Homo sapiens: one gene and its partners. The gene in region 5 interacts genetically with the main gene of each other region. Each region holds a gene or a part of one and is shown on either strand. Other genes may lie near its edges.

Region 1 (4,569 bases), on a different chromosome or scaffold from region 5:
ACTCAGGAGGCTGAGGCAGGAGAATCGCTTGAACCTGGGAGGCAGAGGTTGCAATGACCCGAAATCGAGCCACTGCACTCCAGCCTGGGTGGGAGGCAGAAGTTGCAATGACCCGAAATCGAGCCACCACACTCCAGCCTGGGCGACAGAGCTAGACTCTGTCTCAAAAAAAAACAAAAAAACAAAAACAAAAAAAAACAAAAAAACCCTATCAGAATGAATCAAATCATATATAAACTAGCACCCAGAACCTGACCAAATACAAAGAAAAGTGTGATTCACTGCTTAAATTAAATTAGAACACTTGTGTTAGTAGAGAATAAGCTCAGCCTGGCGCAGTGGCTCACAGCTGTAATCCTAGCACTTTGGGAGGCTAAGGTAGGAGGACTGCTTGAGCCAAGGAGCCAGAGACAAGCCTGGGTAACATGGGGAGATCCTGTCTCTACAAAAAAAAAAAAAAAAAAAAAAAAATTAATTAATTAAAAAATAAAAATAAAAAAGAGAGTAAGTTAGCTCGGCTCAAAAAAGCCTGGTGAAGATGCCTAATTTGGAGTTCAGATTTCACTAGCTTTAGTAAGTAAGAAATCCAACTGCTCTTCATCAGGCAGATGCTAACCACCAATCTACACATAAAGCACTACATAATTATCCACATTATATATTTCACAAAATTGTTTCAAATGGCCTTTTATAAATTTAGCTATTTGACTATTTTTATAAATTTCATCTAACCCACTTTAAGACTAACATCTTAAACTCCACATTTTAAAACTCAAATTAGGCCGGGAACAGTGGCTCACACCTGTAATCCCAGCACTTTGGGAGGCCGAGGCGGGAGGATCACAAGATCAGGAGTTTGAGACCAGCCTGGCCAATAAGGTGAAACTCCGTCTTTACTATAAATACAAAAAATTAGCTGGGCGTGGTGGCGCAGCCTGTAATCCCAGCAACTTCAGAGGCTGAGGCAGGAGAATCACTTGAACCTGGGAGGTGGAGGTTGCAGTGAGCCAAGATCACACCACTACACTCCAGCCTGGGGGACAAAGCGACACCTTGTCTCAAAAAAAAAAAAAAAAAAAAAAAAACTCAAATGAGTTTGGGATACCAGATTTAAAGCTAAGCTTTGTCACTCTCAGATTTTCACATTTTAATATTGATAATGATAGTTAACATTCTCTTTTCTGTTTTCAATCTCCTAAATCAAGTATTCTTAATCTGAGGTTCATGAACAGCCTTGGTGTGAACTGCCTATAACTTTATGCAAAATGTTATATGAGTATATAGACACAAAGGGAGCAGATGCATCAAATGTAACGTGAGTATGGCTACACGACCATAAATGGGTTAAATGTAACAGTCCCAAATCAAGATACCAGAAAATATCTATAAGGAGAGTAGAAAGGACAAAGAGTAATTCCACTTAAGTACTATTATTATACAAAGGAAATACATTCAGAGAAATTAAATCCATCATTGTTCTTGGAAAACATGAATTACATAATTCACTGAGTTTCACTGTTGAAGATCACTAGTTTGAGACGCAGACTGCACAAAATGCCCTATGTAAAGACCATAGATGGCCAAGTGAGGTGGGTCACACCTGTAATCCCAACACTTTGAGAGGCTCAGGCAGGAGGATCACTTGAGCCCAGGTGTTCGAGACCAGCATAGGCAACATAGCGACATCTCATCTCTTAAAAAAAAATTAGCCAGGCATGGTGCCAGTTACTCAGGAGGCTGAGACAGGAGGATCACTAGAGTACAGGAGGTTGAGACTGCAGTGAGCCATGACTGTGCTACCACCACTCCAGCCTGGGAGACAGAGCTAGATCATGTCTCGAAAAAAAAAAAAAAAAAAACCATAGCCACGTGGCTGGCACCGAGTAAGTGCTAAATAGCACCTAGTATTATTAAAAAGTGATGTTTCCAAAAGAATGGTCCCTCTTGTGAATAAAGGCATGCATATTTAACACTACTTGTCCTAATTAGGAAATCTACAAGCATAGAACACAGTAAACTTAACTGGAACCTATCACAACCTTGGATTTAATAAAGCAGTGTAGGGTGTTCCAGCCAATTGAGCCAACCTGTCACAGAAGTACCAAGGAAAACTATTTCCTACTTCTTCTGTACCCTATCTCTCACATGTTTCAGTCAGCCAACAAACTAACACTTAGTTCTCTGGCTCCTCAGGACCATTTTTCCCCTGAATATCATTCCACCATTACCCTATTAATAATCTGCAACACTCCCAGGGTGGTTCCAAAGAAAGGCCAAGACCTAAATTTTCTTCCCTAAATTACATTCCAGATATCAAAGCAGTAATCTCAGCCCCACCTTCTATAGGGAAACAAAGGAATAGTCTAATTGCTCCCCTCTCCCTCTAAAGCGGGGGCCGGGGGGGAGTCTGGGCATTTTGCCTAATTCTCAAAGGAAAATTCCAAAATGTAGTGGCGACAAAGTGGTAAAAAGCTGATAAGCAGCCAAACGTAGTGGCTCACGCCTGTAATCCTAGCACTTTGGGAGACCAAGGCAGGCGGATCACCTGAGGTCAGGAGTTGGAGACCAGCCTGGCCAACATGGTGAAACCCCATCTCTACTAATATAAAAATTAGCTGGCCGTGGTGGTGGACGCCTGTAGTCCCAGTTACTCAGGAGGCTGAGGCAGAAGAAATGCTGGAACCCGGGAGACAGACGTTGCAGTAAGCCAAGATTGTGCCACTGCACTCCAGCCTGGGTGACAGAGCAAGACTCTATCTCAAAAAAAAAAAAAAAAAAAAAAAAAAAAAAGCTGGTAAGCTACACATTTAAAATACCTCATGCACTGGCACACTACACCCATTTTCAGTTTTTCTTCATCTTAAGACACTCAGCCAAGCGTGGGGCTCATGCCTATAATCCCAGCACTTTGGGAAGCTGAGGCAGGTGGATCTCGAGACCAGGAATTTGAGACTAGCCTGGGGCAACATATTGAAATCCCATCCCTACAAAAAATACAAAAAAAAAAAAAAAATTAGCCAGGTGTGGTGGCACGCGCTTGTATTCTCAGCTACTCAGGAGGCTGAGGTGGGAGGATCACTGAAACCCGGCTAGGAGTTGGAGGCTATAGTAAGTTATGATTGCATCACTGCACTGTAGCCTGCGTGACAGAGTAAGACCCTATATCTCAAAAAACAGACACTCAAAGTTGATTAGCAAATTTTTTTTAAATCTCAAAACGTTAAGAAGCATCTTATTTTACCCTAAACATGTTCATATATTAGGAAAGTATATAGCTTGCCACAAAAGAAAGCTATTCTGGCCAGACGTGGTGGCTCACGCCTGTAATCTCAGCACTTTGAGAGGCAGAGGCAGGTGGATCACAAGGTCAGGAGATCATCCTGGCTAACACAGTGAAACCCCATCTCTACTAAAAAATGCAAAAATTTAGCTGGGCCTGGCGGCGGGCACCTGTAGTCCCAGCTAATCGGGAGGCTGAGGCAGGAGAATGGTGTGAGCCCAGGAGGCAGAGCTTGCAGTGAGCCCAGATCACACCACTGCACTCCAGCCTGGGCAACAGAACAAGACTCCGTCTCAGACAAAAAAAAAAAAAAAAAAAAAGCAAGCTCTTCTTTACTATCCAAAATAAAACTGAACTATTCAAACTACAAATAGTGAAACCATCACATAGGTATAGTCAAAACTACCCAGAAGAGAAAACACACACATACACAACACACAGCCAACAGATTGCTATGGAAGGTGAATATAGCAGGATGTTAGCACATACGTAAATTTTTTTTTTTTTTTTTTTGAGACAGAGTCTCGCTCTGTCGCCCAGGCTGGAGTGCAGTGGCGCGATCTCGGCTCACTGCAAGCTCTGCCTCCCGGGTTCAAATGATTCTCCTGCCTCAGCCTCCCAAGTAGCTGGGACTACAGGCGCCTGCCACCACGCCCAGCTAATTTTTTGTATTTTTAGTAGATGGGGTTTCACCGTGTTAGCCAGGATGGTCTCGATCTCCTGACCTCGTGATTCGCCCACCTCGGCCTCCCAAAGTGCTGGGATTACAGGGCACATACATAAATTATTAAGATTGCTTCCAGAATTAAAAAGACCAAGATACCTGAGAAATAAAATTACTCAGAAAGCAAAATTCCCTTTAAAAGCCAAGTAGAAGCCAGGCGCGTGGCTCACACAAGTAATCCCAGCAATTTGGCTGAGGTGGGTGGATCACGAGGTCAGGAGTTTGAGGCCAGCCTGGCCAACATAGTGAAACCCTGTCTCTACTAAAACTACAAAAATTAGCCGGGTGTGGTGGCACACACCTGTACTCCCAGCTACTTGAGAGGCTGAGGTGGAAGAATCACTTAAACCTGGAAGGCGGAGGTTGCAGTGAGCCGAGATCACGCCAACGCACTCCAGTGACAAAGTGAGACTCTGTCTCAAAAAGAAAAAAAAAGAAGCCAAGTAGAGAACTGGCAAGGAAGATTTGATTTTGAAGCACTTCCATCTTTAAGACAACGTTAAAAAAAAAAACTAAACTAAAATATTTGATGGTTAAAAACTGTCTAACATCCCTCATTTTAACT
Region 2 (4,569 bases), on a different chromosome or scaffold from region 5:
GTGTGTGCTGTGATGTCCGTGTGATGTCTATGCAGGCCTGTGTGAGACCCATGTGTGCTGTGTGAGGCTGTGTGTACTGTGACATCTGTGTGTTATCTGTGCGTGCCCATGAGGCCTGTGTGTGCTGTGATGTCCGTGTGTGATGTCTGTGAGGCCCACGTGTGCTGTGGCGTGTGACATCCGTGCAGGCCCGTGAGGCCCACGTGTGTGCTGTGACATCCGTGTGTGATGTCTGTGTGTGCCACGATGTCTTGTGTGAGGCCTGTATGTGTGCTGTGGTGTTGTGTGTGACATCTGTGCAGGCCCTGTGTGCTGTGACGTCCGTGCAGGCCAGTGTGAGACCCATGGGTGTGTTGTGATATCTGTGTGAGGCTGTGTGCTGTGACATCTGTGTTATCTGTGTGTGCCCGTGAGGTCCACGTCTGTGCTGTGATGTCCATGTGTGATTTCTGTGTGCGCCCGTGAGGTCATGTATACTGTGATGTCTGTGAGGCCCACATGTGTGCTGTGGCATCTATGACATCCGTGCAGGCCAGTATGTGTACTGTGACATCGGTGTGTGATGTCTGTGTGTGCCATGATGTCTGTGTGAGGCCCACATGTGTGCTCTGATTTCTGTGTGAGGCTGTGTACTGTGACATCCGTGTGTTATCTATGTGCCCATGAAGCCCATGTGAGTGCTGTGACGTCCGTGTGTGTTATCTGCATGTGCCCATGAGACCCACGTGCTGTGATGTCTGTGTGAGGCTGTGTGTGCTGTGGCATCCGTGTACGTTATCTGTGTGTGCCTGTGTGAGACCCACGTGTGCTGTGACGTCCGTGCACGTAGGGCACACGCCTGGGACTCCCGGGCCCTGGTGCCTGTGCGCACTCAGTCCTGTCCTGGGTTGGGACCGACACCTGCAGCAGCCCCACCCCGCCCCGGGCCTCTCCTCCTGGGCACAGCTGAAGAGCGGCAGCGCCAGACACAGGGAGGGACACAGGCGTGGAGCTGCGGCCGACGCACCAAGTCCGATGATGCCCAAGGTCTCCCCGCGGATCCTGGCAGCGCCGGACGCCACCTCGCGGATCTGCTCGACGCTCTGGACTCGTGTGCCCTCCCGCAGCGCCTGGTGCAGCCAGGTGGCCCGCCGGTACAGGTTCAGGATGTGGCACAGCGTCGAGTCGGCCGTCTCCTCCACAGACGCCGCGGGCACGTTGCAGACGGCAATGCCTGTGGGGACAAGGACACGGCGGTCACCCCCGGGCCGGGCCCAGCCTCCGGGAGGACACCGGGGCCGCCGTGACTGGAGCGGGTTTGAAGCTTCCCAAGGAAGAAGCCAAAGGCCGTGTCCCCAAGGCCACCCCGGGAGGCCACGAGATGAACACGTTGCTCACAGGTCGGGCGCAACAGAGCAACTCCAGGAGCCCCACCTCCACTTTAGGTTCACGTGGCAGCACACACACGGCAACTGCTCGGTGTGTGGTAGGGCTGGGGTGTGAGACGCTGCCCTGACCCCTCCCGACTCAGCGCTGGCAGCCCAGGAAGAGACAAGCACGTGTCTCCCCGCGTCACCTCGCCACCCCGATTCCTCTCGGGGGTACCCTGCTGGGAGGCTGTGGCCAGGTCAGAATCTGGGTGCCGGCCCCGCCTGCACACCCCTACGTGGACATCCGCACATGTCCTCAGGCCTCCCCCAGGCCCAGCCGGGCCCCGAAGCCCCTTCCGCCCTCCATGCCCCACCCCTGCAGTCGGTAACACTGAAGCTGGAGCCATTCCTGGAAAGCAAGTCCATCCCATTTCTCCCGAGTGGCCAGGCACGCCCATGTGTGACCCCTACTCCCCGCTCCCGGCCTTGTCCCCAGAGACAGGCCCTTCCCCAGCCAGTGCCCCTCCCTGAGCCTATTTACCCTCATCCCTGGCTTGTCCCTGGCCAGGGCCGCCCCTGCACGGCACTTCCCACCCCATCCGGATGATTGCATTCCTGTGTCCGACTGGCCATCCGTCTCCCTGGGGAGGAGGAGGGGGCAGGAGGCCAGGACAGGGCTGCATTCATAGGCCCGGAAGCTGGACAGGACCGTGTGGTTCCGCAAGGGGTCCCGGGGGCCGGGAGAGGGCCTGATGTGGGGCGGCGCAGGCAGGGGCTGCATAGCCCCTAGACACAACTCACTTGGACGTAAAAATGTTAAACAAGGGAGACTGAGGGAGAGCCAAGCCAGGCGCCACACGAGATTGGAACAAAGACCTCCTGAGGGTGGGCCAGATCCCAGGGGTGCCCCAGACCATCCCTGGCTGAAGAACAGAGCCCAGGCCTGGGAAACTCCACGGGTAACAGAGATGGTAAACAGCAGGGACCCCTCAAAAAGCACCAGGCATGCACCCGACACCACACACCCAGGCCTGCACCCGACACCGCAGCCGGCCCTTCCTGGGACGCCACCACAGAGACAAAGGCGGGAGGAGGCTGGCACACAGGTTTGGCCCATGGGCGCCGGCGGAAGCAGCTGAAGCCAGTGCAGGAGACCCCCAGATGGAGGCATGGCTTCCGACACCACCTGCGTCCCCCGCAGGAACACAGACGGTTCCAACTTTGCAATGCCATAAACTGTATCCTAGGAAAAGGGAAGCAAAACCGTGAGGCGCTGGCCAACTGTGGGCAAGGGCAGGGTACAACCTCGCCTGTTACCAGCATCGAGAGGAGGAGAAAAAACAGACCGAGCCTGGCAGAAAACAGAAAGTGCGCTCCAAGCAGGACGGCCAAGCACCGCCCCAAGTTTGTTCTAATGAGTGTCTGTACATGGATGCAGACACATGTGCATGTTCCATGTGCGTGTAGGTGCACGGGTGCAGACGTGCGTGTTCCATGAGTGTTCCATATGCTGAGTGCACAAGCAGAGGTGCATGTGTTCTGTGTGATGAGCATGTGATCCATGTGCTGAGTGCGTGTGCACAGGTGCAGATGAGTGTGCGTGATCCGTGTGCTGAGTGCATGTGCACGGGTGCAGATGAGTGTGTGTGTTCCATGTGCTGAGTGCACATGCACGGCTGCAGATGTGCGTGTTCTGTGTGTGTTCTGTGTGCTGAGTGTGCGTGATCCGTGTGCTGAGTGCGTGTGCACGGGTGCAGATGAGTGTGCAGGATCCGTGTGCTGAGTGCATGTGCACGGGTGCAGATGAGTGTGCGTGTTCCATGTGCTGAGTGCACATGCATGGCTGCAGATGTGCGTGTTCTGTGTGCTGAGTGTGCGTGATCCGTGTGCTGAGTGCATGTGCACGGGTGCAGATGAGTGTGCAAGATCCGTGTGCTAACTGCATGTGCATGGGTGCAGATGAGTGTGCGTGTTCCATGTGCTGAGTGCACATGCACGGATGCAGATGTGCGTGTTCCGTGTGTGTTCTGTGTGCTGAGTGTGCGTGATCCATGTGCTGAGTGCACAGGTGCAGACGTGTGTGTTCTGTGTGCTGAGTGCACACGTACTGGGTTGCAACACGCTGCTGTTCCCGCTGTGTCTCGGGACAGAGACCTATGAGCCCTATTACAGCCATACACTGACGGCCCTGCCCTCACCCCCAGGGTCCCAGTACCCAAGCAAGGGGCACCAGCCAGACATGCATGCAGACCTGTGTGAAGCCACAGCTGGATTTCCTGCTGCCCAAAAGAGAGGAAGTGCCCTGAGATGAGGCTCTGTGAGGAACTGAATGGCTGCAACCTCATGCCGGCCCCAGACGGGACCACGAACCACCGCCAGCCACACCAGGCAATGTGCAACGGGGTCCTCAGTGTGGCAGTGAAGCCTCCATGGACGAAGCAAGACGGGACGGAGCTTGCATGAATGGGCACAGGAGAGAACTCGGAGCCGGCCTACCTAAATCCCCGGCCGACTTGATGTCGATGTTGTCAAAACCACTGCCAATCCGGACGATGATGCGGAGGGCTTTGAACTTCTCCAGGTCCTCCCTGGTGAGAGTGATGGTGTGGTACATCAGGGCCCCCACAGCCTCGTTCAGGACCTGCAGCGAGAAAGCACACAGGCTCAGCCCGGAACCTGAAGACCCTCGGGCTTGGCCTTCGGGGGTGGGGCTGCCCCGGCTGGGAAATTAGCCTGTGGCCCTCAGGCTTGTTCCCCAAGCACCAGCCCGGACACTGGGAGAGGCTACATGAAGGCTTCCCCGCCACGCGCGGCCCCTCAACCTCTGCCCAGGCGTCCTGAGTCCCAGCAATTCCCACCGCAGCCTCCTCAGCCGCATGTAGGCTGCAGGCCGGCACTGGTCAGAGTTGCCCGCTCCCCACTGTGGTGGCTGAGATGTCTCCTTTTGAGCGTGCGCCCCACCGAGACTCTGCTCAGCCTTGTGGAAGAAACGGGGTCCCGCCTGGCGAGGACACAGGAGGGGGGGTGCGGCCACACCCAGGAAGGACACTGAGCAGGTGCAGCTGGGTGGGGTGGCCAGGGAACCTGAGACCTGCAGGCCCGGGGATGCAGGTAGAAAGTGGTAAGTCCCCGCGGCACACAAGCACGTCGGCGGAGGCAGGCAGACGCCACCCAGCCGTAAGGATACATCCACAGGAGCATGCACTGCCCCCGTGTCGCC
Region 3 (3,918 bases), on a different chromosome or scaffold from region 5:
GGCGGCGGCCGGAAGGCCCCGCAGACACACTCACCATCTTGGCACTGAAGCGGCCGTGGGCAAGCTCCCCCACAAAGGTGAGCTTACTGGGCTCGGAGTGCCGCAGCAGGTGCGTTCTGACACCCTCGATGGCTTCCACGTAGTCTTCCAGCAGCCTGTGGACACCAGCAGTCATCTCACTCTACCAGGACGGTGCATCGGCTCCCGTGGGGCACCAGGGACAGGCACATCCTGGGCCCACACAAGTACAGCAGGCCTGGCCCTTGCCGGACAGAAGGTGCCACCCTGCACAGCCCATGGCCCTCAGTGAAGATGCCCCCCTCACCCCCCCAGAGGCCACGGTGAGAGGTGAATGAATACGCCCTCCACATAAATGCCTGGGCCAGGCCTGGCACGGCTGCGGTTTCCTGACACACAGTGTGGCGGGGGGCAGCAGGAGCGGGGGCCGTGGGAGCTGGGGGCAGCAGGAGTGGGGGGCTGCGGGAACGGGGGAGCCGCGGGAGCTGGGGGCAGCGGGCCGGGCCTCACTGTGTCTCCTGCTTCCCGCCCTGGATCCACTGCTTCAGCAGGTACTCATAGTAGCTGTCGGCCCTGGCGCCCAGCGTGAATACGCCCAGGTGGGTGAAGAGGCCACTGTGGGTATTGATGAACATGGGCACCAGCCCATCCTTCTTCCCAGACAGGCCGTGGATGTGCTGTGTCACCTTCTCCACTGCCTCCTGCGGCAGAAAGGGGGATGGTGGGTTTACTGGCCAGGGCCGAGCTGCAGGGTGAGCTGTAGAGGGGCTCTGTGAGCTCTGCCTCCCCTCGCCCCAGCACCGACTGACTCCCAGCAGAGAGAGCTCTGTGCCCAGCCCACAGCTGTCCTTGCCCACATGGCTCCTGGTGGCCGTACCACACAGCCACACAGCCACCAGTGCAACGCACCTGAATGTCACTGCTCCCAACGGGTGGTCACCACAGAGCTGACCCATCTTCAGGATGGCTCTCATCCCTTACTCGAAGGGACAGCATCTGACAACCACAGGCACTGTCCTCACGAGAGCCCACCAGGCCTGGCCGTCAGCCATGGCTCTGGAGGGACGGCAAGTGTGCCTGCCTTCTGAGCCCAGTGTTGCTCCTGATGATATTAAACGCCTCGGCTCCACGCCCTCCTGGTGAGCTCCTACTCATCCTCCAAGTCACAGCCACCCTCAGCTCCTCAGGGCTTACGCCCAGCTGGCAGCACCAGGCGTCCTGGCCCACAGAGGGGCACAGGGTACCGGGATGTTAGGGCACGCCCAGCAAGGGCGCTCCGGGTCTCTACCCAACGCAGACACCCAAACCCATGCCCAGCACCTTCGAGGCCTGGCTGCCTATCCCTGTGTACCGGCAGCAACCAGAGGCCCTGGTGACATGGGGGTGCCCATGGGGGCCTGGGGCCATTTTCTGAGCTGCAGTGAAAACGCCTTCTAAATGTCTGCATGGGAGCCTCACGTGGATGGCGTGTGGGAGCCTCACGTGGATGGTGTGGGCTGCACTTCTCACCACAAGTGGTCACAGTTGCTCTAAAGAGGGCTGTGTCCAGCTCATGATTAAAAACAGGGACTCGAACATGAGGCCAAATACATGAGCAACAATAAACTGACCAGCTGTGCTTCATGAAAATGACAATCTGTTATCTATCAAAATACACCATTAACAAAGTAAAAAGAGGCCGGGCACAGTGGCTCACACCTGTAATCCCAGCACTTTGGGAGGCCAGTGGGTGGATCACCTGAGGTCAGTTCCAGACCATCCTGGCCAACATGGCAAAACCCCATCTCTACTAAAAATACAAAAAAATAACGGGGTGTGGTGGTGGGTGTGGTCCCAGCTACTCGGGAGGCTGAGGCAGGAGAATCGCTTGAACCCGGGAGGTGGAGGTTGCAGTGAGCCGAGATCGCGCCACAGCCTCAGGCAGGTGTGTGCACCCACACTCACAACACCCAAAACACAGCCTCAGGCAGGTGTGTGCACCCACACTCACAACACCCAAAACACAGCCTCAGGCAGGTGTGTGCACCCGCACTCACAACAAAGCAGAGCCTCAGGCAGGTGTGTGCACCCACACTCACAACGGCCAAAACACAGCCTCAGGCAGGCGTGTGCACCCGCGCTTACAGCAACCAAAACAGCACAGTCCTGGTGTCCACCAGAGGAGAGAGGATTAAACAAAAAGTGGCCTAGCCACGCAGCAGATATTCAGCCTGAAAAAGGAATCTCTGAAGCATCTTTCGCGTATGAAGCTTAAAGACGCTGAGTGAAAGGAGCCCAAATAAAAGGATAAATCAGCCGGGTGTGGTAGCTCACGCCTGTCATCCCAGCACTGTGGGAGGCCCAGGCGGGTGGATCACGAGGTCAGGAGTTTGAGACCAGTCTGGCCAACTTGGTGAAACCCTGTCTCTAATAAAAACACAAAAATTAGCTGGGCGTGGTGGCAGGCGCCTGTAATCCCAGCTACTTGGGAGGCTGAGGCAGGAGAATCACTTGAACCTGGGAGTGGAGGTTGCAGTGAGCTGAGATCACGCCACTGCACTCCAGCCTGAGTGACAGAATGAGACTCTGTCTCAACAAACGAAAACAAAAAAAGGACAAATCGTGTGTGACTGCACTCACACGAGGAACTCCACACAATGAGGTCCAGGAAGAAAAACCTGAACAGTGTTTTTCAGGGACTGGGGAGGGACATGAAGGGTCACTGTGTGATGGGAGAGCTTCAGTTTTAAGATGAAAAGGGCTCTGGAGATGGAAGTGATAGCTGCACAACAGCATGAATGTGTGTAACACCACTGACCTGTACTCCTGCAACAGCGTGAATGTAACACCACCGACCTGCATGCCTGCAACAGCATGAATGTGCAACACCACCGACCTGCACGCCTGCAACAGCATGAATGTGTAACACTACCGACCTGCATGCCTGCAACAGCATGAATGTGTGTAACACCACTGACCTGCACGCCTGCAAGTGTGAATGTGTGTAACACCACCGACCTGCAAGCCTGCAACAGTGTGAATGTGTGTAACACCAACCTGCACACCTGCAACAGTGTGAATGTAACACCACCGACCTGCACGCCTGCAACAGCATGTGTGTAACACCACGGACCTGCACGCCTGCAACAGTGTGAATGTGTGTAACACCACCGACCTGCACGCCTGCAAGTGTGAATGTGTGTAACACCGACCTGCACGCCTGCAACAGCATGAATGTGTGTAACACCACCGACCCGCACGCCTGCAAGTGTGAATGTGTGTAACACCAACCTGCACGCCTGCAACAGCGTGAATGTAACACCACCGGCCTGCACGCCTGCAATAGCGTGAATGTGTGTACCACTGACCTGCACGCCTGCAACAGCGTTGTGTGTAACACCACCGACCTGCATGCCTGCACCAGCGTGAATGTAACACCACCGACCTGCACGCCTGCAACAGCATGAATGTAACACCACTGACCTGCACGTCTGCAACAGCGTGAAAATGTGTAACACCACCGACCTGCACGCCTGCAACAGCATGAATGTACCACCGACCTGCACGCCTGCAACAGCATGTGTGTAACACCGACCTGCACGCCTGCAACACCATGAATGTGTGTAACACCACCGACCTGCACGCCTGCAACAGTGTGAATGTGTGTACCACCGACCTGCACGCCTGCAACAGTGTGAATGTAACACCACCGACCTGCACGCCTGCAACAGCATGTGTGTAACACCACCGACCTGCACGCCTGCAAGTGTGAATGTGTGTAACACCAACCTGCACGCCTGCAACAGTGTGAATGTAACACCACCGACCTGCACGCCTGCAACAGTATGAATGTAAGACCACCGACCTGCACGCCTGCAAAAGCGTGAATGTGTGTAACACCACCGACCTGCATGCCTGCAA
Region 4 (4,569 bases), on a different chromosome or scaffold from region 5:
TTGGGTTTGTTCAATTTTTGGTGTCATTTATATAAAAAGAATAAAGAAGAATGTGAATGGTAGGAAGTCAGGGGAGAGGCATGGCAGAAACATTGGTATTCACTAGAACTTGTATTTTTCTAGTGCATGTGAATTGGACTCATTTCACAAATAACATTTACAGTATAAGTCACTGAAATGCAAAAAAGGAAAGCAGCTAACACGAGACATTTATACTTTATGCTCAGACATTCTGGTAGTAGAGGAGGGCTAGGACCCTAGAGCTGTGTAGTAAAGAATTGTTGAGTATCGTTCAGTTTAGGTACCACGAAGGTGGTATCTCCTGCTCTGCCACCAATAGAAACTTGAAGTTAAAAAGAAAAGACTCTGAGAGCGCTGATGCTGGAGAGATTTGGCTGTTTACCCCTCTGGGATTGGATTCGGTAAGAGTGCAATTAATTGCCCTGTAACCATAGAGCCAGAGGAGAGGGACTAGGTGCTCCGGGCTATGCTCTAGGAGGTGTGAGGTGCTTTCTATGCTGTTTATACCCTAGGCTAATCCTATGAGGTAGATAGTGTTGGGCTTTTTTTGTGGATGATGAAACAGAGATGCAAAGAAGTTAATTCCCTTGTTCAAGGCCACAAAATTATTAAATGAACACTAGGATTCAAACCTGGGTCTGTCTTAGATGACTGAATCTGCGGAATTTTCCCAGCTGTTTTGTTAGTCTTGATCCGTGTAGATCATCCTTCCAAAAACTTGTGTTTCTAATCAAGTTTATGATCTATAGTTGAGCGTCTGTACTAAATGGGTCGAGTGATTACATGGGTAAATGAAATTGATAGAACTCATATCATTGTGCTGAATTCCCTAGCACCATTTAATAAGATGCAGTCTTGCTGGGTGCAGTGGCTCACGCCTGTAATCCAAGCACTTTGGAAGGCCAAGGCGGGCGGATCACGAGGTCAAGAGATTGAGACCATCTTGGCCAGCATGGTGAATCCCCGTCTCTACTAAAAATACACAAATTAGCTGGGCGTGGTGGCGGGTACCTGTAGTCCCAGCTACTCGGGAGGCTGAGGTGGGAGAATCGCTTGAACCCAGGAGGTGGAGGTTGCAGTGAGCCAAGATCGCGCCATTGCACTCCAGCCTGGGCGATAGAGGGAGACACCCTCTCAAAAACAAACAAACAAAAAATTTGTGTAAGAAAAATCATTGAAGTCTTTGTGTTGTAGCATAGTGGTTAAAGTGAGTTCAAACTCAGGCTCTATCCTTTACTAGCTGTGATGTTGGGGTAGTAGCTCCTCATACGTTTTATTTATTTTTTAAAATTTTATTTTATTTTATTTTTTTGAGACGGAGTTTCGCTCTGTTGCCCAGGCTGGAGTGCAGTGGCGCGATCTCGGCTCACTGCAACCTCCGCCTCCTGGGTTCAAGTGATTCTCCTGCCTCAGCCTCCCAAGTAGCTGGGATTACAGGTGCTTGCCACCACTCCCGGCTAATTTTTGTGTTTTTAGTAGAGATGGGGTTTCAGCATGTTGGCCAGGCTGGTCTCGAACTCCTGACCTCAGGTAACGTGCCTGCCTCGGCCTCCCAAAGGGCTGGGATTATAGGCATGAGCCACATTGCGCCTGGCCCTAATGTGTTTGTTTCTTCATCAGTGTAAGGGGACAGTCAACTTTCATAGAGTTAAGAAGATCCAGTTAGTGTGTGAGAGGTACTTAGAACAATGGTTGACATTCTAAGCATCCTGTAAGTGTAAGTTGCTCCTGATAGGTTTGATTTTTGAAGTTTGTTTCTTTGTATTACATTTTATTTGCTTGTTATTTATTTTAGTAGGGGCATAATGTCATAGGAAGGATTTGATAGCTCCATTTCCTAAGTAACCCATTTGAAGTAAACTTAGCTTGGTTTTTTTTACTCTTAAAAAGTTGTGGTTTAAGGCTTACATATACTATGAATAATTTACATGATTGGTGTAGGTACGGTGGTGGATCTTTTTTGCATGCCTTTGTTGCTATTCTGTCATCTGGGTTGGACTTCTTAAGCCTACTTGCACCATTTGAAACATTTTTCAACTTACTTTCTTTCTTTTTTTTTTTTTTTTGAGATAAAGTCTCACTTTGTTTGTTGCCCAGGTTGGAGTGCAGGTTGGAGTGCAATGGCGCGATCTCCTCTTACTGCAACCTCGCGCCTCCTGGGTTCAAGCGATTCTCCTGCCTCAGCCTCCTAGCTGGGATTATAGGCATGCGCCACCACGCCCAGCTAATTTTTGTATTTTTAGTAGAGACGGGGTTTCACCATGTGGTCTCCATCTCTTGACCTTGTGATCTGCCCGCTTTGGCCTCCCAAAGTGCTGGGATTACAGGCGTGAGCCACCGCGCCCAGCTTCAACTCTTTTTTTTTTTTTTTTGAGACAGAGTCTTGCTCTGTCACCCATGCTGGAGTGCAATGGTGCGATCTCGGCTCACTGCAACCTCTGCCTCCCGGGTTCAAGCGATTCCCCTACCTCAGCCTCCCAAGTAGCTGGGATTACAGGCGCCTGTCACTTGCCTGGCTAATTTCTTGTATCTTTAGTAGAGATGGGGTTTCACCATGTTGGTCAGGCTGGTCTCGAACTCCTGACCGCCCGTCTCGGCCTCCCAAAGTGCTGGGATTACAGGCATGAGCCACCGTGCCAGGCAAACTCTTTAAATACAAAGGGAACTCTTTCAAGGTTTGGGTCCAGCAGAACCTAGGGTCTGCCTTTTAGGCTGTAGTGATTACTTTGGGTAGGTGGTTTTATTTTATTTTTCCTGACCACTTTTTATCTGTGTATTCTTTTCCGTATTATCAGATGCTGTCTAGATAGTTGTCCTTAGAAGTTCAGTTCCTCTATGAGCCTTATCTTATGTTCACTTCCCATTTTTAACCATACTTAATTTAGCACTAGTGTTCACTTTGCTAATAGTCAAAAGTTCTATGTATCAGGACTATACAGGTGCTTTGACAAGTACTGTGACAGTCTGAGTGCTGATGCCTGAATTTAACAGTGAGAAAATTGAGGCTCAGGTAGTAGGGGACAGAGCAGGAATTTAGGCCCAGTTTGTGTGAATTCTAGGCCAGTGTTGTTACCTAGCAGTCTGTCTTCTCAATGAATGAATGGTTGTAGGTCTGGATTATTAAGTTTTTATTTGGTTGCCCTGAGCAACCTTTCTTATTCATTTTATCTTCTGTAACTACTGACAGTGTAATTTATTTAAAGTACTGGTTTCATCTTGTCAGTTCCCCTGCTGGAGAACCCATAATGGATTCTCTTTGCCAACTGGATTGAATTTGTATGCTTCAGTCTGGCTTTTAAGAAGGTTCCATTCTACCTATTCAGCTTTATTTCTCACTCTTAGTTGGGATTCTTGCCGGCCTCTCAAATACGGTAGTTTTTGCCATACTCACTACTTTGCTTTTGTGCATGCTGTTGTTCCCTTTGTCCTTCTTATAGCCTAGTTTCAGTCCCCCTTCTTCCATGAATCCTTTTCTGGCCATCCTGACTCAGGATATTTCTTCTCTGAGATTCCATTGCACTTAATGAAGATCACAAATCCCATAACTGTTTATTGTTTTGTTGCCCCAACTACGATGTTTCTTGAACGGATGGACCTTTTTCCTTCCAGCATTTGGCAGAGTTCTTAATACCATTTTCATGTTAAAATGGATTGTGAGGGCCTGTGTTAAAATGGGAGCAGTGACAGCCCTGTTCCACTGTAATGTGGCAGCATCTTCTTTTTGAGTTAGACCTTAAAGATTTAGGTGTGCTATAGTCACATTTAACTGTTCATTTAAATTTTAGTGCTGCCAGAGTTGCAAAGGAAGAAAAATTTGTTAGTTTCTTAGATGAAAATGGATGGTTTTGACTGGGTACGGTGGCCCACGCCTGTAATCTCTGCACTTTGGGAGGCCCAGGCAGGGGGATCACCTGAGGTCAGGAGTTTGAGACCAGCCTGGCTAACATGATAAAATGTTTAGCTCTACTAAAAATACAAAAAATTAGCTGGGAGTGGTGGCACACGCCTATAATCCTAGCTACTCAGGAGGCTGAGGCAGGAGAATAGCTTCAACCCGGGAGGCGGAGGCTGCAGTGAACTGAGATTGCGCCACTGCACTCCAGCCTGGTCAACAAGAGCATCAACTCCGTCACATACACAAAAAAAGAAAATGGATGGTTTTGCCCTTTTAATTCTGGAATAGTAGCCACAGTACTGGGGGAAAACCTAGTCTAGTTAGGAATTGTGTCACAGTAAGTTGACTTTATCTGGTTATATATGTGTCAGGTAGTTAGGTATAATGATGCTTAAGATTTTGGACTCTTTTTTTTTTTTTTTTTTTTTTTTTTTTTGAGATGGAGTTTCACTCTTGTTGCCCGGGCTGGAGTGCAATGGCACATGCTTGGCTCACTGAAACCTCCGTCTCCTGGGTTCAAGCGATTTTCCTGCTTCAGCCTCCCCAGTAGCTGGGATTACAGGTGTCCGCTTACACGCCCAGCTAGAACTTTATTTTCTTAATCTGTTAGGTTTTTTCTTCATTATTTCCTTAGTAGTGTACCTAAGTTAAGA
Region 5 (4,569 bases):
CACACCACCACACCTGGCTAATTTCTGCATTTTTTGTAGAGACGAGGCTTCGCCATGTTGCCCAGGCTGGTCTCAAACTCCTAAGCTCAAGTGATCTGCCTGCCTCAGCCTCCCAGAGTGCTGGGATTACAGGTGTGAGCAGGTACAGCAGGCTGAGCACCAATGAGACTGGCGAATGCTGAGTTAGTTTCACCACCATACGCCTCCTGTTCCTTTTCCTGCTTTACCTCTTTGGTCTCTTGAGACTGACTATAAATAGAACTGAAATGCACATCCTGTGATTTTTTTCTCCTTCATTCAGTAACTCCTTCAGAGTAACAATGGTCTGGGTGAGGTATAGCACCATGCACAGTGGACATTTTGCCTCAAGGCAGTCTACTTTAAGATGCAATCCATGGTTTAACCTCAATCTAATTACAACAAACCAGACAAATCCAAATATGGAGACAGTATGAAAAACAACTGGCCTGGACTCATGAAGGTCCCCTATGCAACTTTCCTGTGTAACTTTTCCTACAGGTTTGGAAGGGAATGGAATGGATAAAAAATCTTAGTCTTTGTTGACAAAGCAATAAAATTCTTGTTCATTGAAGTTTGAAAAAACTTGTAACAACCATCAATTCTCATAACCATTAGTGTAAAAGGTATAAAAAGCTGGTATTACATATGTATTTGACATTAATTAGTATATAACTATAAACACCTATTAAAGTAATAAAATGTAAAACATCCCCTTAAGAAATTAGGAACTTGTGAGAAACTGCTGTACTGATAACAGATTATTCAACATCTGTGCACACTGGCAGCCACACTCACAGTCTCTGGCCAGCAATGTTCGCTGCTTCTGTCACCCTACAACCAGGCCAATACTTGGATTTACAACCTAAATTTAAACAGCCATGGAATGTGTCCACAATTTAAGTCAAACCTATTACAATATATTCTAAGGGCTTTTCCCAACTGCCTAGGATTCTGTGGCATTACTTACTGCTTGAAATAGCTAGTAACTATTAATTGTTAATAATCATTACCTAACGTATTAGAACTCAGGAATCCTTCCATTTCACTAGCATGGCTGAGATAATGGTTATTACCATTATTACATCGTAGCCCATTATTCTAGGCTAACAAAAAAGGGGTGGTGATGGGGGGAGCAGTGGGGGAAAAGATACTTTGAACACCTATGTATATAGGTGTTCACCATGATAACATCATTATAACAAATTCCTCTCTAAAAAAGATTTTGTTAACTATTTCTCTCCCAAAGAGACTGTTTAACCAATTTTTAGGTACGGAATTACAACCTGAAATCAAGCCTTCATTTCCCTCTCAACTTAATTACCACTTCCTATAAGAACTTGATTATATGTCTGAGAACCGAGATAGTAAAATGAGGAGTCTGACTGAACAATCGAGATTACTACCATTGGACAAACCCTGAGAGGAATTACTCTTCAATTCTCCTGGCTTTCGTTATCAATTATATGATATTAAAGAGAGAAAAAAAAAACCTTACCCAGTTATTTTCCCAAATGACTGCAAGAACAACTAAACAATGTAAATGATGAAATAACTCAAAAAGTTTTGAGAAGGGGGTTGTAAGTCCATATGTGGAAGTTTAACTTTTCTCCAATTCTATTTACTAATTCACTTTCAGAAAGGTTAAATCTTTTTATTTTTTGAAACAGAGTCTCGTTCTGTCACCCAGGCTGTAAGTGCACTGCAACCTCTGCCTCCCAGGTTCAAGTGATCCTCCCACCCCAGCATCCCAAGGATTACAGGTGTGTGCCACCACGCCAGGCTAATTTTTGTATTTTTAGTAGAGACGGGGTTTCGGTTCGCCATGTTGGCCAGGCTGGTCTCCAACTCCTGACCTCAAGTGATCCGCCTGCCTCAACCTCCAAAGTGCTGGGATTACAGGCATGAGCCACCACGCCCAGCGAACAGTCAGTGTTTTTATTCATTTCTTATTTCTTTTTCTGAGGTGGAGTTTCGCTCTTGTTGCCCAGGCTGGAGTGCAATGGAGTGACCTCGGCTCACTGCAATCTCCGCTTCTCAGGTTCAAGCAATTCTCCTGCCTCAGCCTCCTGAGTAGCTGGGATTACAGGCATGTGCCACCATGCCCAGCTAATTTTGTATTTTTAGTAGAGCAAGGTTTCACCGTGTTGGTCAGGCTGGTCTTGAACTCCTGACCTCAGGTGATCCACCCGCCTTGGCCTCCCAAAGTGCTGGGATTACAGGTGTGAGCCACCATGCCTGGCCAGAAATCTTGCCGTTTTTCCCCAACTCTGGGTGGCTGCATCTTACCTCTTTATGCTTCTCCATGGTGGCATATAGTTTCTGTGAGAGGTCGTTAGATACATTGGGCATCCCGGGTTTCTTCTTGTTGCCCCTACTCAGGCTGCTCTTATTTTTGCTGGTTTTCTTATTATTCTTCTTTTTAGCATTTTTGCTGTCTCCCTTGGTCACCTGCAGAGTAGCACAAAGGAGACAAGAAAATAAGGTTTTTGTTAAGTAATTTGGGAATAGCACAGAATATCTCCCTTCTTTGAAACTAGATATCATAATCTTATGCCTGTAACTTATTTTACTAGCTGTTCTCTTCACTTATTCTTTCTCCTTAAAGTTGTTATTTGACCTAATTTTCTCCCAGTGATCTTTAAGGCAATGGCAGCCCTTTAGCTTTTTGCCTAGAAGAGGCCACAGAATGTGCAGACCCTGTAGATTGATTGAATGTATCCCAGATTGGGGCTAGGGAACAAGGAAGGGGTGGCACTTTGGGGTAGTGAAGAGTGTATCAAAGTGGGGAGCCAGAAGACCTTGGTTTTATTTCCTTCCACTCATATTCTAAAATGTTATGAGCCTACAAATACTAAATGACAAGGCTGTAAGAGTTTGTTAACAGACTATTTAAGGGTGCCTTTTGTTAAGTTAAATTCAATGGAGGTAATTCGAGATATGCTATGGGGAAATAACTGGTGAGGTTACTAAGCCAGGCTTAGTAACTTAAATTCTGGCTCAGGCCTATTTTGTATAGCTAAGAATGGTTTTTTACATTTAAAAAGAGTGTGTTTTTAAAAGACAGAAAATATGCCAGAGATATGTGACCCACAAGGCCTATAATATTCATAACCTAGTCCTTCAGATAAGTAATCTTCTATCAGTTTTTCAGGATTTCCTTCAGTTTCTTTTATCATTTCACATTACTCAAAGTCTGAGATGCCATTTTAAAAGGGGCTCTGATGCTTTAAAAGTTTAATACCACTGAAACAGAACCCTAATAACCTCTCTAAGCCAATATTTCTTGTCCAACTTAAAGAGCTCTTTTACACCTGAAAGCTTTAAAACCCAATTGAAAGTTTAAGTGCACTTCTGGATTAAATATTAGAATCATGATAGAAGTTTCAAAGGAAACTCAATGCCCTTACATCTGTGCTTTCATTGCTGGTGTTTTCCTCTCGTTTTCTCTCTTCTTCCTCCTGTTCCAGTTCCTTAATGCTTTCTTCCAGAACATTGGGCCAGAAATCACCCTCGAAATAAGGCAATTCCTTTGCACTTGTTAATCTATCTTCAGTAGCTTGTTTAAAAATATCCTGTGAAAACATGCATGTACATATAGGAATTTCTATGTTCTTTTAAAGCATTGATTATACAGAATAATCATGGCTGACAAGAAACATGAAAGCTTAAAATGTCTTGAAAGCTGGCAGAGACTTTATACCTAAGCCGTAAGCCAGGGAGTATTTAGAAAAATAAATAGTGAAAAGGCCTGGCCTAAAGTCAATATTTCCGGTTTTCTATTTCTTCTACCCACAAAAACAGGGAGCTTATCTGCCTTTATATAACCAAGTGGCAATTATCCTGCCAGGATCAACGTCAGGGTGGTAGCACCATCATGCATGCCATGGCCCCTACCACTCCTTATCACAGAATATGTGGTATGAAGCATGCCCTCCTCACACCCATCCTTGGAATTTCAGCAGCTTTTACTGACAGCTTTGTTCAAAATGACCAAAACTACAAATACTGGAAATAGTATCTGCTGCAGAATGATTTGCTGGGCTGCTTAGGAAAACTTCTTTATTTAGTTGAACTACTAAATTGAGGAAGACAAGTCTGTATCATGAGACAACCTATATTTATGAATAACATAATACTGTTAATTAAGAATATATTTTTGGCCAGGTGCAGTGACTCACACCTGTAATCCCAGCACTTTGGGAGGCCGAGGCAGGTGGATCACCTGAGGTCAGGAGTTCGAGACCAGCCTGACCAATGTGGAGAAACCCCGTCTCTACTAAAAATAGAAAAAATTAGCCTGGCTTGGTGGTGCATGCCTGTAATCCCAGCTACTCGGGAGGCTGAGGTAGGACCATCACTTGAACCCAGGAGACTGCACCATTGCACTCCAGCCTGAAACTCCGTCCAAAAAAAAAAAAGGGAGAATATATTTTTGGCTGGGTGATGTGGCTCATGCCTATAATCCTAGCACTTTGGGAGGCTGAGGTGGGCAGATCACTTGAGCTCAGGAGTTTGAGACCAGCCTGGGCAACATGGTGACATCCTGTC
Region 6 (4,569 bases), on a different chromosome or scaffold from region 5:
ATTTAAACGTTTGTGTTGCACTCTTGCTGGTTCATTCCCATGAATGAGAAACAAACCTTATTAGGAGGCTGGACCTGTCTAGAACGGCAGTGTCACATCAATTTGGGGAACTTCATTTATTTCCTGATCAAACCAGAAAAATAACTCATAGCGCTTCTCTAACAACCAGTCAGAGGCATCATTTTACTACGTTACTCCAGCGTGGGGATTACCTTGCCTTACCAGTTCCCTTCCTCTATCCAAAATTATTTTGAATATATAAATGCAACTGAATCCTAAGAAATTTATTCTATCATGGAACAGTCAGCTGAATAAAAACTAAATAAAAAAAGAAGTACAAAAAAAAGAAAAAAAATTTATTCTATCTGCATTTGACCTTAGTTTAGTTTAATGCCCAAGAAACGAGACCATAATCCCTGAAAATAAAGGGGTAAAAGAGAACCTGCTCTTCTGAATGCCATCAAATTCATAAAACAATCTTACAAATCACTTTTACTACATTCCAATGTACCTTCGACAATCTGCATTTTACAAATGTATAGATGAATATTACAGTAAAATGTTAACTTTAAGGGGAAAACATCCCAATAAAAAGGCTCTTGGTTTCACTGACCTGTGATCGCCTTCACCACCATATCAGACACTTCTGGGATGTCTTCATTAACAGGGACACACAGCATCTGAGGCGTAACCCAGCGCAGGGCTCTAAAGAGAGAGAGACAGTAAACAAGAGCTCCAAGGATAAACTGTGGCCATTTGTCTTGTCACCTCCTTCAGTTTAGGGAAAGCCTGAGGCATCACTGACCACTCAATCCCAGGCCCACACACATCACCCCTGCAAGTACTACGAGCTCTAATGACGTGATGAAGCAGCTAGGATCCTAAAATGAGACTTCTGCATTTATCACAAGAATGGAAGGCCATCTTGCTGACTGAAATGACATTACGCAGTGCTACCAAGACTGAAATGCACTCAGTATCTGAAAGTGACCATTTGAGAATTGGCTGCTGCCTGTCCTCGCTGCCTACTGCGTTAATGTCCTTTTACACTCAGTCCTCAACTTCTTTCTTTTTTGAGATGGAGTCTCACTCTTGCCCAGGCTGGAGTGCCAATCTTGGCTCACTGCAGCCTCTGCATCCTGGGTTCAAGCAATTCTCCTGCCTCAGGCTCCCAAGCAGCCGGGACTACAGGCGCCCACCTCCATGCCCAGCTAATTTCTGTACTTTTACGAGACAGGGTTTCACCCTGCTGGCCAGGCTGGTCTCAAACTCCTGACCTCAGGTGATCTGCCTGCCTTGGCCTCCCAAAGTGCTGGGATTACAGGTGCGAGCCACCACACCTGGCCTCAACCCTCAACTTCTGAGGCACACTGGAGCTTGTATAGGAGGCCACGGGCAGGACCACCATGCCTGAATCACTGTGTGTTTCCTGGTCCCACCCTAACTGCACTCCAACTACCCTGCAGCAGGCCTGCCCTCTTGCTTGGTTACTGCTTCTGTTCTGCATCTTGGTCCAGGGCCCCTCTAGTTACTTCTGGCTCCTGACCTTGGGCTCCACATCTTCAGCCTGCCCAGTATCAACTCCTCACTTCAGCTATGAAACTTCCAATACAGATCTAGCAAGTACCAGCCCCTTGTCTGGAACCTGGGACTCCGAGTCCCTTCTCCCCTTAAAACACCTCATCAGCTCAGCCTTGGCCCTGTTCCCACACTTGGGTGGTCTCTTCCTCAGTGTCCACCGCAACTGGAGTACACAGTGCTGGGGCTCACCCCAGTGAGCCTGGAAGACTGGGTGCTGTGGGAAATGTCATCAATCCAATGCCAGTGAAAGATGTGACTAGGGAATGCTGAAAAATGCACACCCCTGGGAGGAATGAGGAAAGAGGACATCTACTGACTTGTTATTTTTTTGAGAAGGAGTCTTGCTCTGTTGCCCAGGCTGGAGTGTGGTAGCATGATCTCAGCTCACTGCAACCTCTGCCACCTGGATTCAAGCCATTCTCGTGCCTTAGCCTCCCAAGTAGCTGGGATCACAGGCGTGCGCCACCATGCCTGGCTAATTTTTGTATTTTTAGTAGAGACGGGGTTTTACCACGTTGCCTGGGCTACTCTTGAACTCCTGGCCTCAAGTGATCCTCCCAAAGTGCTGGGATTACAGGTATGAGCCACCGGGCCCAGCCGACATCCCCTGCCTTGATACCGATATTCACAGCTTCCCACTTGAGGAGATGGTAATGGACCAAGAACACAGTCCCCCTATTCCTTGGAGATTTCAGGGATTGAAAACAATCTCAAACACCAAACACAACTCTTACCAAAAGCTGCCTTGAGGGAGATGGATAGGTGAGGTCACCACATTCCTCGTCTTTCTTACACAACAGAGCTGCTTCCACTCTAAGGAAGCAGGAACATGAGCTATTGCTTTCCCTTAAGGTTTGAAACACAGGTGCATTATTTTCCCCCCAGTGTGTTCTTCCATTAGAAGGTAGTAACTACAAAGCAAAACAAAATAAGCAACTACCTGATTCTCTTTTGAATGGCAAGATCTTTCTTCTCATCATCAGTAGTTTCTGGACAGAATACATATTTATAGAGACGAGTCATGATGTACTTTTCAATCTGATCCATTATCTTCTCGACTCTTTCTGGAGGCACTGAAATAACCAGACAGAGAAAAGATCAAGATATATATATTTTTTCTCTCTCTTTTTTTTTTTTTTTGCAAACAAAGAGTCTGGCTCTGTCGCCCAGGTTGGAGTGCAGCAGCATGACCTTGGCTCACTGAAACCTCCACCTCCTGGGCTCGAGCCATTCTCCTACCTCAGCCTCCCAAGTAGCTGGGATCACAGGCACACGCCACCATGCCTGAATAATTTTTGTAGGTTTTTTCTGTGGAGATGGGGTTTTACCATGTTGCCCAGGCTGGTCTCGAACTCCTGGGCTCAAGCAATCTACCTGCCTCAGCCTCCCAAAGTACTAGGTTTATAGGTGTGAGCCAGAATGCCCGGCCAAGAGTATATTTTCATAGCACTGTCTACACAGCAAAAAACTAATTTACTAGAAATAAATTAAACACACTCAGAACAAAAGTATAAGAATGTTATATTTAAAAATACGCTTAAAAAAAAAACTTACCAGCTGGGTGCGGTGGCTCTACTCCTGTATTCCCAGCACTTTGGGAGGCTGAGGCAGGTGGATCGCCTGAGGTCAGGAGTTCAAGACCAGCCTGGCCAACATGGTGAAATCTCCTCTCTAATAAAAATACAAAAATTAGCTGGGTGTGGTGGCACGCACCTGTAATCCCAGCCACTCGGGGGCTGAGACAGGAGAATCACTTGAACCTGGGAGGCAGAGTTGCAGTGAGCCGAGGTCACACCACTGTACTCCAGCTTGGACGACAGAGTGATATTCTGTCTCGACAAAAACAAACAAACAAACAAACAAAAAAATCTTCTTCCAACTGTTGGGCTGCCTTCCACAGCAACCTCAGTTCTAACTGAAGTTGTCTGACAGGACCTAACAGTGTACACCCTGCCAAATGGGGAGACTTCAGCAAGGTCACTCCCTGTCCTACATTACAAAGGCATTTGCAACTCCCAAGACTGATGAATGCTGATGAAACTTATCCTTTCATTTTTCTGAGGTTTACCATAACATCGTAGAGCTCTCTGAGGTATACAAATGGAGATTTCTCTGACACACACATGTGCTAAGTATATCCTAAAGTCTAGTATCAGTGAAGGTTGAATCCATAAAGAATCCCTAAAAACTTGAAGCTCTTTTTTTTTTAAACTATTAATACAATAACTCACCAAAATGGTGATTCCAAGATGGAAAATTCATTTAGCAAAGCCTTCCAATAAGTTTTTCTCTTTCTCTCTCTCTTTTTTGAAGACAGAGTCTCGATCTGTTGCCCAGGCTGGAGTGCAGTGGCACAGTCTCAGCTCACTGCAACCTCCGCCTTCCGGGTTCAAGCAATTCTTGTGCCTCGGCCTCCCGAGTAGCTGGGATAAGAGGTGCACCACAACACCCGGCTACTTTTTGTATTTTTAATAGAGGCGGGGTTTCACCATGTTGGCCAGGCTGGTCTCGAACTCCTGGCCTAACGTGATCCGCCTGCTTTAGCCTCCCAAAGTGCTGGGATTACAGGCATGAGCTACTGAGCCAGGCCCTAAGATGTTTTCGTCAGCTCCAGCCCTGCCCCAATGGAGTTATTAAATGTTACTCAATAAATTATCCAATTGCTCCTGGAAAGATACGCATGGTACAGTTCAAAGGCACTGCTAAGTATAAGACCAGTTCCCAGAATGTCCATGAGGTTACAGGATGAAGTCTACAAACCAGCCAGACCATCAGAGAAAGAAAGAAATTGCTAAGAGACTGAGCAGTCATCCCTGTGCAATACCCGCAATCTCTCAATGGCTAACAGTGTTACCTTTCCCACGAGTTTGCATCCTTTCGGCCACATTGTGGTAGAAATCCTGAGCACACTCTGACTGTTCTTCAATGCTTAGATCCTGAAACAGAGAGACAAAGAGGCTGCTTGTAGCTGAACAAAGTGCAGAAGCA
Region 7 (3,566 bases), on a different chromosome or scaffold from region 5:
ACGGGGCGGACACGCAGGCATTAGGCTATGCGCCAGGATGAAATGTCTCATGAAAGGCAGGCTGTAAACGCCCACAACAGCTCCCTGGAGCCTCGTCACGGCAGGGCCAGAGTTCACAGCCACCCTCCAGAGAGACCTCGAGACCAAAGTGGAGGAAAATCACAACACAATCGACACTCAACAATGCCTGCTTCCCTGCTTCCTTCCCAGCGGAGACTTCATTACAACCTGCGCACGTGCACACACACACACACACACGCATATGTGCACACACGCACGCACACACACGCGCACACGCAGGTGCACACACAAGCACGCGCACACAGTGGTTCTCAACCAGGGCGATTCTGCCCGTGTGGACACCTGGCAATGTCTGGAAACATTTTTTATTTTCACAACTCGGGTAGGGGGAAGGTGCTGACATTCGGGGCTGGATTGTTCTCTGGGACGGGGCCGTCCTGGGCACTGCAGGGTGCTGCTGAGCAGTGTCTCTGGCCTCCACCCACTCCAGGCCAGGAGCACCCCCCATCGTGACAACCACAATGTCCCCAGGCATCGCCCAGTGTTCCCTGGGGGCAGTTCACGCTGGGTGAGCCTCTGCTGCAGCAGAAGGCTGTGTTTCCACGGAGAAGCCACTTAACTCCCTCACTGACCACCGGCTGGAGGCCTCATGCATGCCTCGCTTGAGGACAAGCTCATGAGGAACTCTAGCTACTCCCAAGAGACAGACGTTGATCAGGAGAGATGAGGCAGATGCACGGGAGCTGTGAACCAGGCACCATTTTCCAGGGGTGACTGAGAGCCTGGCCCTGCAGTGGGTGAGGCTGGGGGCTCGGGAGTAGGGACCTCATCCGCCTGACCAGCCCGAGGACAGGAGAACGGCGGGAAAGGTTTGGGTGCCATGAGAAGGCCACTGTGATGAGGGGGAGGGAAGAGCAAGCTCCCCGCAGTCGCCCAGGCCTGCAGTCAGAGGGTGACGGGGGTGACACCATGACCATGGGGGAAAAGGGGGGCTGGCAGTGGCCTCTGCGATGCAGGAGATGTCAGAGATGACCAAGATCTCCATCCTCGCAGTGCAGATGTCAGTCTTCACACACCGCGTAACGAACGAATGCAGACTCAGCCACGCGGAACAGCAGGAATGCGGTGTCTCGGCTCTGAACGGTGGAAATCCAGGTGCGGGCTAGCTGGGCCCTACGCTCCAGGTCTCGCAGGGTGTCATCAGGGCTGAGATCTCACTGACACCCAGGGTCCTCTTCCAAGCTCACTGGAGGTCGGAAGAGTCCACCTCCTGGTGGCTGTGGACTGAGGCCCCGTGTCCTGGCTGGCTGTTGGCGGGGATGGCTCTTGGCACCGAGAGGCTGCCCTCGGGTCCTCGCTTCATGCCCTTCTCCTGGCACACCCTGGCTTTTTGCTTCTCCAAGGCCAGCAGGAGGGTGAGTGGCTCACCTGATTAGGCCAGGCCCACCCCCTCCCTTTTGATGAACTCAGCGCTAACCGATCTGGGGCGGTCATCACAGCTGCAACATCCCCTCTGCTGGGATTCTGACATAATGGCAGGAGTGACACGCACGGCAGTCCCAGCCCTACCCACACTCGAGGGGAGGGAAGAGCATGGGGCGTGCGGAGCAGGGGCTGGAAGCTCAGGGAGCCACCCTGGAACTCTACTCTGCCACACTAACAGGCTCAGATGATTTAATCCCAGACAACAGCCCTTCTCCTCCTTTCTGGACACTAGGCACGAGGAAAAGCAGGGCCAGGGGTTGGGGGATAAGCTTAGGGCTTCCATGCTTTCGTTGGGAGGAAGAACAGGGGGTCCTCATATCTCCACCAAGTATGTAACCAACACAAATTCAATGTCACATCTGGCACTGGCCCAGAGAGAGGAAGCCACTCACCCAGGGTCACCCAGCAAGCATGGCCAGGGCTGGTCACACTGTGGCCTGACAGGGGACCCACACTCTGGGCTGCTGATATGGGGGAGCTCAAGGAACAGGTCAGCAGAGGATGATGCTGTCAGGAGTTGGGGTGGACAGACTCCAAGATGGCCCCAGAAGCCCCTGCCTCTTGACAGCCATACCCTGTGAGGTCCTGGCCACTTGAGTATGGGAAGGACTTGAACTTGCTTCTAACCAGCAGGACACTGGGGCAGAGGGGAAGGGATACCCTGTCACCTCTGCATGACATGGGACTGTGCCCTCTGTCTTACACAGAGTCATGGCCATCTTCTCCATTTGCTGATGAAGGAACTGATCATGCTGGGGAGGTCCACGTGGCCAGGCTCTGAGGGCTGCCCCAGCCAACAGACACTGACAAACAGACACCTTCGGTCTGACAACCAATGAGGAACTGAACCTGGCTTACAACCACATGAGCTTAGAGGCCGACCCATCCCCGGTTGAACGTTGAGATGAGACCACAGCCCAGGAGACACTGTGACTGCTGCCTTGTGAGCTCCTGAAGCAGTGCCCAGACCCCTGACTCACAGAAACTGTGAGATGATAAACGTCTGTAGTCCTAAGGTGCTCAGTTTGCTATAATTTGTTACGCAACAGTAGCTGACTGATATAGGAACCGAAGAGAGGCCATGCTTTCCAGCTTCAGGACAGAGTGTGCCCTACCTAGGTGGGTAGTCTGGTCTGATTATCAGGTGACAACCGACAAGTCCACCTGTTGGGAATCCCAGGTCTGGTCCAAACCCCTTGTTTGGCCGGTAGAGCACAGAGACAGAAAGTAACCAGTTCACAATCACACAGCAAATTCACTTCCTACTTTCCGTCACCCTTACAGCATCAAGGCCTTCACTGAACTTGGCATCAGTGTTGAAAATGCATCAGAGTCCCTTGGCCATAAGGTGCCAAGGGCTGCTGCTAGTGCCCAGGGAGCCCTTACCTTTTCCCTCACAGCGGGCAGCAGAGCGTTGAAGCACGTGGCCAGAAACACCCCTCCTCCAAAGGTGTTGCAGAGAGAGAGGATCTTTTTCGAGCGATGGGCCTTCTCAAAATCTGTCTCGATGATCTTCACGGGGAGCAGGGAGCCGAGCAGCATGAAGAAGAACACGCCCACCATGCACAGGATTTTGGCCACTAGCAATTTCACCATGGTGGCGGCTTGGGCTGCTCTGGTCACTGCAGGGCCAAACCATCTGTGGGCGCACACCCAAGTCCCACGATGTGCTACCGAGCCCAACCACACAGTTGGAGGCTCATGTCTCAGTCCAGCAACTGTGAACATCAGGGGCACTGCATTAGCTTTCTTTCTTTTTTCTTTTTTTTTTTTTAGACAGAGTCTCGCTCTGTTGCCAGGCTGGAGTGCAATGGTGCAATCTCCGCTCACTGCAACCTCCGCTTCCTGGATTCAAGCAATTCTCCTGCCTAGTAGCTGGGATTACAGACACGCGCCACCACTCCCAGCTAATTTTTTTTGTATTTGTAGTAGAGACGAGGTTTCATCATGTTGGCCAGGCTGGTCTCGAACTCCTGACCTCGTGATCCGCCTGCCTCGGCCTCCCAAAGTGCTAGGATTATAGGCGTGAGCCACTGCACCTGGCCAGTTCTTCAGTTTTG

What was found.
Region 1: changes in EP300 (region 5) and RAB1A together harm fitness more than expected from each alone (negative genetic interaction), as found in Homo sapiens cells (one large-scale study listed by BioGRID).
Region 2: changes in EP300 (region 5) and CTBP1 together harm fitness less than expected from each alone (positive genetic interaction), as found in Homo sapiens cells (one large-scale study listed by BioGRID).
Region 3: changes in EP300 (region 5) and MAN1B1 together harm fitness less than expected from each alone (positive genetic interaction), as found in Homo sapiens cells (one large-scale study listed by BioGRID).
Region 4: changes in EP300 (region 5) and TBL1XR1 together harm fitness less than expected from each alone (positive genetic interaction), as found in Homo sapiens cells (one large-scale study listed by BioGRID).
Region 6: changes in EP300 (region 5) and RABGEF1 together harm fitness less than expected from each alone (positive genetic interaction), as found in Homo sapiens cells (one large-scale study listed by BioGRID).
Region 7: changes in EP300 (region 5) and SLC39A3 together harm fitness less than expected from each alone (positive genetic interaction), as found in Homo sapiens cells (one large-scale study listed by BioGRID).

The regions. Positions count from the first base shown.
Region 1 is NC_000002.12:65,119,396-65,123,964, forward strand, and holds part of RAB1A (ras-related protein Rab-1A), read right to left. Parts: intron 1-4,569. UniProt on the Homo sapiens protein: The small GTPases Rab are key regulators of intracellular membrane trafficking, from the formation of transport vesicles to their fusion with membranes.
Region 2 is NC_000004.12:1,224,354-1,228,922, forward strand, and holds part of CTBP1 (C-terminal-binding protein 1), read right to left. Parts: intron 3,991-4,569; coding exon 3,846-3,990; intron 1,214-3,845; coding exon 1,007-1,213; intron 1-1,006. UniProt on the Homo sapiens protein: Corepressor targeting diverse transcription regulators such as GLIS2 or BCL6. Has dehydrogenase activity. Involved in controlling the equilibrium between tubular and stacked structures in the Golgi complex.
Region 3 is NC_000009.12:137,102,926-137,106,843, reverse strand, and holds part of MAN1B1 (endoplasmic reticulum mannosyl-oligosaccharide 1,2-alpha-mannosidase), read right to left. Parts: coding exon of another isoform or gene 2,479-3,918; exon of another isoform or gene 1,868-2,478; intron 720-1,867; coding exon 529-719; intron 156-528; coding exon 35-155; intron 1-34. Other genes in the region: uncharacterized protein LOC124902313, read right to left, coding at 2,634-3,918. UniProt on the Homo sapiens protein: Involved in glycoprotein quality control targeting of misfolded glycoproteins for degradation.
Region 4 is NC_000003.12:177,189,917-177,194,485, reverse strand, and holds part of TBL1XR1 (F-box-like/WD repeat-containing protein TBL1XR1), read left to right. Parts: intron 1-4,569. UniProt on the Homo sapiens protein: F-box-like protein involved in the recruitment of the ubiquitin/19S proteasome complex to nuclear receptor-regulated transcription units. Plays an essential role in transcription activation mediated by nuclear receptors.
Region 5 is NC_000022.11:41,171,523-41,176,091, reverse strand, and holds part of EP300 (histone acetyltransferase p300), read right to left. Parts: intron 3,594-4,569; coding exon 3,429-3,593; intron 2,470-3,428; coding exon 2,308-2,469; intron 1-2,307. UniProt on the Homo sapiens protein: Functions as a histone acetyltransferase and regulates transcription via chromatin remodeling. Acetylates all four core histones in nucleosomes. Histone acetylation gives an epigenetic tag for transcriptional activation.
Region 6 is NC_000007.14:66,795,459-66,800,027, reverse strand, and holds part of RABGEF1 (rab5 GDP/GTP exchange factor), read right to left. Parts: intron 4,518-4,569; coding exon 4,436-4,517; intron 3,411-4,435; exon of another isoform or gene 3,295-3,410; intron 3,253-3,294; coding exon of another isoform or gene 3,136-3,252; intron 2,655-3,135; coding exon 2,522-2,654; intron 706-2,521; coding exon 614-705; intron 1-613. UniProt on the Homo sapiens protein: Rab effector protein acting as linker between gamma-adaptin, RAB4A or RAB5A. Involved in endocytic membrane fusion and membrane trafficking of recycling endosomes. Stimulates nucleotide exchange on RAB5A. Can act as a ubiquitin ligase.
Region 7 is NC_000019.10:2,734,156-2,737,721, forward strand, and holds part of SLC39A3 (zinc transporter ZIP3), read right to left. Parts: intron 3,225-3,566; 5' UTR 3,103-3,224; coding exon 2,893-3,102; coding exon of another isoform or gene 2,785-2,892; exon of another isoform or gene 371-2,784; intron 1-370. UniProt on the Homo sapiens protein: Transporter for the divalent cation Zn(2+). Mediates the influx of Zn(2+) into cells from extracellular space. Controls Zn(2+) accumulation into dentate gyrus granule cells in the hippocampus.